2 separate regions of the Homo sapiens genome follow, and region 2 is linked to region 1. The links come from fine-mapping of genetic effects on gene expression. Tissue or cell type: whole blood. Region 1 holds a variant in brackets; the other region holds the start of a gene. All regions are shown on one strand. Distances are between the middles of the regions.

The links.
Region 2: TESMIN starts here. The variant in region 1 is fine-mapped to the expression of TESMIN in whole blood (TOPMed, PIP above 0.99).

Annotation. Positions count from the first base shown.
Region 1 is chr11:68,701,400-68,705,788 of GRCh38, forward strand. It overlaps a transcript of TESMIN not described here. Among named protein-coding and RNA genes, the nearest start is that of GAL, 19 kb to the left of the region's middle. The variant C/T (reference allele first, on the strand shown) is at 2,612.
Region 2 is chr11:68,749,335-68,753,723 of GRCh38, forward strand. TESMIN (testis expressed metallothionein like protein) reads right to left here and starts at 2,186. Exons shown (of 10, transcript NM_004923.3): 1 at 2,086-2,186; 2 at 856-1,365. The coding sequence starts at 1,326. RefSeq lists an enhancer at 1,313-2,298 and silencers at 1,999-2,288, 2,299-2,418.

The sequences.
Region 1 (4,389 bases):
ATGCCTAGTTAATGCAATAAGATAAGAAAAGGATATACGAAGTTTACAGATTGGGAAGGAATAAATAAAGCTTTGTTTGCAGACGTCATGATCATCTATGTAGAACTCTAAAAGTATCATCAACAACAACAACAAATGTCCTGGAATTAATAAGCAATTATAGCAAAGTTGCAGGATACAAGGTTAATAAACAAAAGTCAATAGCTTTCCTATATACCAGCAATGAACAAGTAAAATTTGAAATTAAAAATGCAATACCACTTACGTTAGCACCTCCCAAAAATGTAATACTTAGGCATGCATTTACCAAAACCTATATGAGGAAAACTATATAACTCTGATGAAAGAAATAAATACAGAGCTAAATAAATGGAGAAATATTCCATGCTTGTGGATAGGAAGACTCAATATTGTCAAATATTAGTTCTTCCAAATCTGATGTATAAATTCAACACAATTCCAATAACAATTCTGGCAAGTTATTTTGTGGATAGCAAAAAACTGATTCCTGGGCCAGGCATGGTGGCTCATGCCTATAATCCCAGCACTCTGTGAGGCCAAGGCAGGAGGATCGCTTGAGCCCAGGAGTTTGAGACCACCCTGGGCAACATAGTGAGACCTTGTCTCTATAAATAATAAAAAAAATTAGCCAGGCATGGTGATGTACACCTGTGGTCCCAGCTGCTCAGGAGGCTGAGGCAGGAGGATCAGTTGAGTCTGGGAGGTCAATGCTGCAATGAGCTATGATCACATGCCACTGCACTCCAACTTGGACAACATAGTGAGATCTTGTCTCAAAAACAACAAACAAACAAACAAACAAACAAAAAACCTGATTCTAAAGTTTATGTGGAGAGCCTAAAGACCCAGAATAGCCAAAAAAAAAAAAATGGAAAGAAAAGAACAAAGTTGGAAGGCTACTATAAAGCTACAGTAATCAAGATGGTGTGGTGTTAGTAAAAGAATAGAAAAATAGATCAATGGAACAGAATAGAGGGCCCAGACTCATACAAATAGAGCCAACTGATATCTGACAAAGGAACAAAAGCAATACCATGGAGAAAAGACAGCCTTTCTGACAGAAGGTGCCAAAACAACTGAACATTCATATGCAAAAAAAGACTAGATAAAGCCTCTTATCCCTCTCACAAAAATTCATTCAAAATAGATCATAGACCTAAATGTAAGTTGTAAACTATAAAATTCCTAGAAGATTGGCCAGGTGCAGTGACTCACACGTGTAATCCTAGCACTTTGGGAGGCCAAGGTGGGAGGATTGCTTGAGGTCAGGAGTTCGAGACCAGCCTGGCCAACATGGTGAAACCCCGTCTCTACTAAAAATACAAAACTTAGCCAGGTGTGGTAGCAGGCGCCTGTAATCCCAGCTACTCAGGAGGCTGAGGCAGGAGGGTCGCCTCACTTGAACTCAGGAGGCGGAGGTTGCAGTGAGCTGAGATTGCCCCACTGCACTCCATCCTGGGGGACAGAGAGAGACTCCATCTCAAAAATAAAATAAAATAAAATAAAATCCCTAGAAGATAACACAGGAGAAAGTATGGATGGTCTGGATATGGCAATGATTTTTTAGACACTATGCCAAAGGCATGATCCACGAAAAAAAAAATTGATGAGCTGGACTTTATTAAAAACTTCCGTTCTGCAAAATACACTGTCAGGAGAGTGAGGAGACAAGCCACAGACTGGGAGAAAATATTTGCAAAGGACGTATCTAATAAAGGACTGTTATCCAAAATATACAAAGAATTCTTAAAACCCAACAATAAGAAAAGAAACAACCCAATTAAACAATGAGCAAAAGACCTCAACTGACATCTCACCAAAGAAGATATGCAGTTGGCAAGTATGCATATGGACATATGCTCAACATCATATGTCACTGGGGAACTGCAAATTAAAATGGCAATGAGATACCAGTACACACCTATTAGAACCGGCAAAATCCCAAACACTGACAACGCTATGTGTTGGTGAGGAGGCGGAGCCACAGAAACTCTCATTCACTGCTGGTGGGAATACTCAATGAAACAGCTTCTTTGGAAGAAGATAGTGGTTTCATGCAAAACTAAATATATTCTTATTACATGATCCAGAATCATTGGGTAAATCCATTGATGTTTACCCAAAGGCATTAAAAACTTGCATCCACACAGAAACCTACATACAGATATTTACAGCAGCTTTATTCCGAGTTGCCCAAACTTGGAAGCAACTCAGATGTTCTTCAGGAGGGGAAGGGATGAACAGTGGTATATCCAGACAATGGAATATTATTCAGTGCTAAAAGGAGATGAGCTATCAAGCCATGAAAAGATATGAAGGACATAAATGCATATTACTAAGTGAAAGAAGCTAGTCTGAAGAGGCGACCTACTGTATGATCCCACTTAAGTGACATTCTGGGAAAGGTAAAACTGTGGAGAGAGTGAAAATATCAGTGATTGCCAGGAGTTGTGGGGAGGGAAGGATGAACAGGCAGAGCACAGGGGTGGTTTAGGGCAGTGAGACTGTTCTGTGTGCTGTAACCCTGGATATGTGCCATTGTACATTTGTCAAAACCCATAGCATGTGGAATAACGAGAGGGAATCCTAA[C/T]GTCAGCATGGGCTTTGGGTTTGTGGTGTATCACTTTGGATGATGGTGTATCACTGTAGGTTCATCAGTTGTAACAAAAGGACGGCTCTGGTGAGGAATGTTGGTAGTGGGGAGGCTGCGGTGTTGGGGGGCATGGATTATATGGGAAATCTCTGCACTTTCTGCTCAGTTTTGCTGTGAACCTAAAACTACCCTAAAAAATACTCTAGTAAAAAAAATAAATAAATAGAGACCCAGCATGGTGGCTCACACCTGTAATCTCAGTGCTTCAGGAGGTCAAGGAGGGAAGATCATTTGAGGCTAGGAGTTTGAGGCCTGGGCAATATAGCAAGACCCTGTCTCTACAAAAAATAAAAATACAGAAACTTAGCTGAGTATGATGGTGTGAGCCTGTAGTTCTAGCTACCTGGGAGCATTGCTTGAAGCCAGGAGTTTGAGGCTGCAGTGAGCTATGATCGCACCACAGCACTACAGCATAGGCAACAGAGTGAGACTCTGCCTCTATTAAAATATATATATTTCTAGGGAATCATCATTAAAAAGGTTGTCACTGCAGACTCTGTCTTCATAATTCGGTAATAATGTTTCTATAGTCCATCTATTTCCAACAAACATATGAAATGGTTTACAGTAAAAGATGTATGTAATAGTACAAATAAAAAGCATGTTTAAAAAAGTAAAGCTTTATGGAAAAAAGAGAGGGACAGTTAATCCTAAACCTGGGCTAATGTGATTTCTGGTATTGAATAGATTTACTTTTGAATTTCCTGAAAGTCAAGGCAAAATTTAAAATATCAAACATTAAAGTTTTTATTAAAGTTTGTTGTTGAAAAACAAACCAGCTACCATTTTTAGGAGGCTCAAACTTTTTCCTGATAGTCATTTTTAAATATATGAAGAGAACATCCATGCAATGACAGTCTTCAATTCCAGTTTTATCGGTGGCTGGGGCCGGGCAGTGCTCCCTGTGGCTCTCCAGTCTCTGCCGGGGGCCGGGGGTTGGGAGCAGGATGGAGGCAGGGCTGGGGGAAGATGCCTCACGGTGATCCCTCCTGTCGTGCTTCCTCCCTCCTCTGAGGCTAAGGACTCCTGGGGAGAGAGTGCAGCACGGAGACCGCACAGCCGGCCCCATGCACAAAGCTGTGCCCGGTGCCTTCCTAAAGAGCGCGCCGCCTGCAGAACGGGAGGCCTCCTCCCTGCTTCGTCTTCTGCGCCCCCTCCTGCTCTCTGGATCCTCTGGCTGCTCTGATCATTTTATCTTGGATGAGGGTTCAACCTTTGAATTCCCTAAGACAGTATTTTAACTGACTCCTTACGATAACTTGTTTATTATGGTTTGAAACCGCGCCCACACTGAAAGGGGACCAGTGCTGGCAGAACTTCAGGTACTGGTGAGAGGTTTGTAAAGGGATAGGAGCATCCAAGCCGAGATGAAAAATACACCAAGCCTTCTGCTGACCTTCCGCCGCCAACAGCACCTTCTCTCCTAAGGATGCTCCCTGGCCGCCAGACTTTCTGTGCAGTGCGCAGCCTGTGTTCACTGACAGGAAAGAGCGATTTCAGCGCGTGTCATTCTAAACAATGATTTCTTCTCCGTGTCTATGAAAAAACAAGGTTTTTTTTTCTTTCGGATAAACAAAACAAAAACCCAAAACCAACAGATAATCTAACCTTAATCACAAAGGTGGTCCGAGTTATTTAGTAGGTACAGAGTAGAAAGATATGGTTAAGGCTGGGCGCGGTGGCTCACGCCTGTAATCCCAGCTCTTTGGGAGGCC
Region 2 (4,389 bases), 48 kb after region 1:
GCTCTGGCTTATGATACAGGGTCAGGCTCCAGCCATCTCAATACTGACTCAAGCATTGTGTCCCACAAACGCTTCATCTACAACTTACTAAAATGACCTCATGGATGAGTGGTCTCGTTTTCTGAGCTGGGTCCTTTTTGAGGGGTCGAGAACACATTTTCCTGGGACCCTTTGTTTCCTTTGAAAACTCATTAGTTTTGGCAAGAACAAAGCGGAAAATTATCAGCGGTCATCTACAGCTAGAGAGGGCAGTCGGCTGAGAGCTGGCAAGCATTTCTTTAGGCTCTGATTTACATTGCATATGCTTGAAGAGCTATTACTCATTAGCAAAGGGAAGATCTCACATCTTGACTTCAAGGCCCGGAAAATCCAAGTATTAACTCTGAGTCCTTGCTGTGGATTCCAAGCCTGGTAAAGTTAAAGGAAAAAAAAAATGCAAGATGCAAACACGCCAACCCTCCACCACATTGCGTTTGTTTTCACAGACAATAGTTACCAGCAGACAGCGGGCCTCTCTCCTTAAGCCAAGGATAGCAACAGGGCCCAAGGGAACCTACGTCCTAGCTTTCCCCCTTTTTTTGTTGTCCGCCGTCTGCATGGTTAGGTCAGCTTTGGACGACTGGTGCAGGGCAGAATTCCCTCCAGGGGAAAGGGCTTGGCTGGGCCGATGCATGTTGGATTAGGAAGACGACAAAGAGTATACGCTCTACCGAGAATCAGTGACTCCGGTGGGCTGTGTGTGGTGTCACCAGGGAAAATGCTTGTAGAGGGAAATCCTGGGGTACACTAGCAGCCTCAGATGGGTTGGGGAAGGGATGGAGGGGGAGCTGTGCCCATTCCCCAGGCGGTTCTTACTGGGATCATGCGGACGCCCGGGTGGGAGGCTCCTTCCAGGACCCAGGCGCCCAGGGGCAACACCGCCGGGCTGCGGTGCGCGGGTAGCAGCGAGGACAGGAAGTGCACGTTGCAGGCGGGCGGCTGCGGGGCCTGCAGGAGCGCGACGTCCTCCAGCGCGCTGAGCTCTGGGATCCCGGGGTACTCCCCGAGGAGCTCCCCGCCGTCGCTGTCGCCCCCCGCGAGCTTCGCCTTGACCTGGCCCTTGCAGTCGGCGCCCAGCGCGGGGTTGAACGCGTGCAGGACGGGTTCCTTGGGGTCCGCCGGGCCCAGGTACGCTTCTTTGAAGACGTGGAACTCGTCCTCCTCGTACTTCACGGGGGCCTTCAGGCCGATGTTCTCCGAAGCGAACGGACCCTCGGGGCTTAAGAGCTCCGTCACCATCGCATCCTCGGGGCTGGGCAGCCCGCCCGGCAGAGGGCCCTCCTCCATGGCGCAGGGCGGCGGGGCGGGATGGCGGGGGCCGCGCACCTGCAACACGCGGCCAGGTGAGAGGCAGCCAGAGGAGAGGACGAGGGGAGGGGCGGCCAGGAAAGGGGACAGCCAAGGGAGGGGCAGCCAAGGGAGGGGCGGCCAGGGGAGGGGACCAGGTGAGGGGCGGCTAGGGGAGGGGGCGGCCTGGTGAGGGAGGGCCAGGTGAGGGGCCCGGGGAAGGGCGACCAGGTGAGGGGGTCAGGGGAGGGGCGACCAGATGAGGGGCGATTAGGTGAGGGGCGGCCAGGTGAGGGGCGGCCAGGTGAGGAGCGACCAGGGGAGGCGGTCAGGTGAGCGGCGACCAGGGGAGGGGCGGCCGGGGAGGGGGTCACGGGAGGGGCGACCAGGGGAGGGGCGGCCAGGGGAGGGGGCCAGGTGAGGGGCGGCCAGGTGAGGAGCGACCAGGGGAGGGAGTCAGGGGAGGGGCGACCAGGTAAGGGGCGGCCAGGAGAGGGGCCGGCCGGGGTGGGGGTCAGGTGAGGGGCGCCCAGGGGAGGGGGCCAGGTGAGGGGCGGCCGAGGAGGGGGTCAGGTGAGGAGCAGCCAGGGGAGGGGGGGCCAGGTGAGGTGCGACCAGGTGAGGGGCGGCCTCGCCCACGGCCCGCCGCCCTCCGCCCACCCGCAGGGGCCCGACCCGGCCCGGCAGCCCCCATCCCCGCCTGCAGAGCCGAGGCCCAGCCCGGGGACCGCCCCGTCATTCCTCCTCGGAGGGACGCACCTGGGGCCGCCGGGGCTGCCGCAGCGTGGAGCGAGCGGGATGGGGCGTGGGCCGGGCCTCAGGCGCAGGCGGCCGTTGGCGGTTGGAGAAGGGGGAAGGGTGAGGGACAGGAACCTGGGGGGAGGGGAAGAGGCGCCCGGGCAGTGGGCGGGGCCTGGGCGTGGGGCGGAGTCGAGGTCGGGGCGGGGAGGTAAAGGCGGGGCCAGGGAGGTGTGGTGGGCGTGGTCTGGGGCGGGAGGAGACAGAGTCGCGAGGGGCGGGGCCTGGACTGCCGCTGTTGCCAGAGCGGGTCAGGGGAGGCACTCCCAGGTTCAGCCGATCCAGGCTCAGGTGGGGAAACTGAGGTCCCCATCAACTCGGGCAGCGCTAAGTGGGACTGCCTAGCTTGGCTTCTGACCTTGGGCTTCAGTTATATTTTTCTGGCCAGGCGTGGTTGCTCACGCCTGTAGTCCCAGCACTTTGGGAGGCCGAGGCAGGCGGATTACTTGAGGTCAGGAGTTCAAAACCAGCCTGGGCAACATGGTGAAACCCCGTCTCTACTAAAAATACAAAAATTAGCTGGCCGTGGTGGCACGCGCCTGTAATCCCAGCTACTTGGAAGGCTGAGGCAGGAGAATCGCTTGAGCCCGGGAGGTGGAGGTTGCAGTGAGCCGAGATCCCGCCACTGCACTCCAGCCTGTGCCACAGAGCTAGACTCCGTCTCAAAAAAATAAATAAAATAAAATAAAACATTTTTCTACACTCGAGCTCTCAAGACAGATCCCGGCCTGGGACGCTGCGGGTGGACAGAGGGCAGGGGCTTGCACCGCACGTTCCCAGCCTTGCACCCACTCCCGGTCCTTGGTGACGCAGCTTACAGGTGCAACTGATGGAGTTGGTCCCGAAATAGAAGTAACAAATACGGCTGGGCGTGGTGGCTCACGTCTGTAATCCCAGCACTTTGGGAGGCCGAGGCGGGTGGATCACCTGAGGTCAGGAGTTCGAGACCAGCCTGGCCAACATATAGTGAAACTCCGTCTCTACTAAAAAATACAAAAACTAGCTGGGCGTAGTGGCGCACGCCTGTAGTCCCAGCTACATAGAAGGCTGAGGCTTGAACCTGGGAGATGGGGGTTGCAGTGAGCTGAGATTGTGTCACTGTACTCCAGCCTGACCAACAGAGAAAGGCTCCCTCTCAGAAAAAAAAAAAAAAACTCACAAATACAATGAAAGTCTCAAATTTTGGGTGGGGAATGAGCTATTTCATCTTTAAGGAGTCAATAGATATCACTGTTTAATCAAGAGGAGGTGAAAGTTTAATTCAAGTGATGGCGAAAACTGCAAAGGGTGTAGAGGGACTGGTGGGAGTGGGTGCTGGGGAGACAGCCTCAGGTACTGTCTACTCAGGTACTGTTTTGGTAAAAATAAAGAATGTAAAACATCAGCTTTCTAATCTCACTTTTAAAAATTAAATACTTTTCTAAATTTTTAAAGGGTAGTACCCAAGGCACAGCAACACCGTGTACTATTTAGTTGTACATTTAACATTCAAAAATCAAGAAAATTTTGCCTGGGGCTGGGCGTGGTGGCTCATGCCTGTAATCCCAGCACTCTGGGAGGCCAAGGTGGTCAGATCACTTAAAGTCAGGAGTTCAAGACCAGCCTGACTAACATGGTGAAACCCTGTCTCTACTAAAAATACAAAATTAGCTAGGCATGGTGGTGCACACCTGCAATCCCAGCTATTTGTGAGGCTGAGGCAGGAGAATTGCTTGAACCTGGGAGGCGGAGGTTGCAGTGAGCTGAGATTGCACCATTGTACTTTAGCCTGGGCAAAAAGATTGAAACTCCATCTCAAAAATCAAACAAACAAAAACAACAACAACAAAAAACACTCACAGAAGCAGAAAAAATAATAAAAATAATAAATCGAAGAGCCCAAGAATTATGCATAGCTTGAGTGGCCCAAGCGAGAGAGTAACCCACAAGGTTGCACCGTTCATTCGTTTACTAATCAGAATCAGACGTCTACTGAGTAGCATCATGCCAGGCATACACAGCCACCTGTGGGGGTCACCCACGGGTTGCAATCAAGCCTGGAGGCTCTGCACCTGCTGCTCCTAGATGCTTGCTGCCCTGCTGCACTGGCCGGGCTGGCTCCGTCGAGTCTCTCAGGTCTCAGCTCAACCCACTCTAAGTGGGTCAACCTCCCTGCCAGCTACCACCCCCTCCCAATGATCCTCTTAGTTGCCTCAGAACACTTAAAATCCTTCAACTGGTTGGCTTGTTCTCTTTTTCCTCTGTGATATGGTTTGGCTCTGTGTC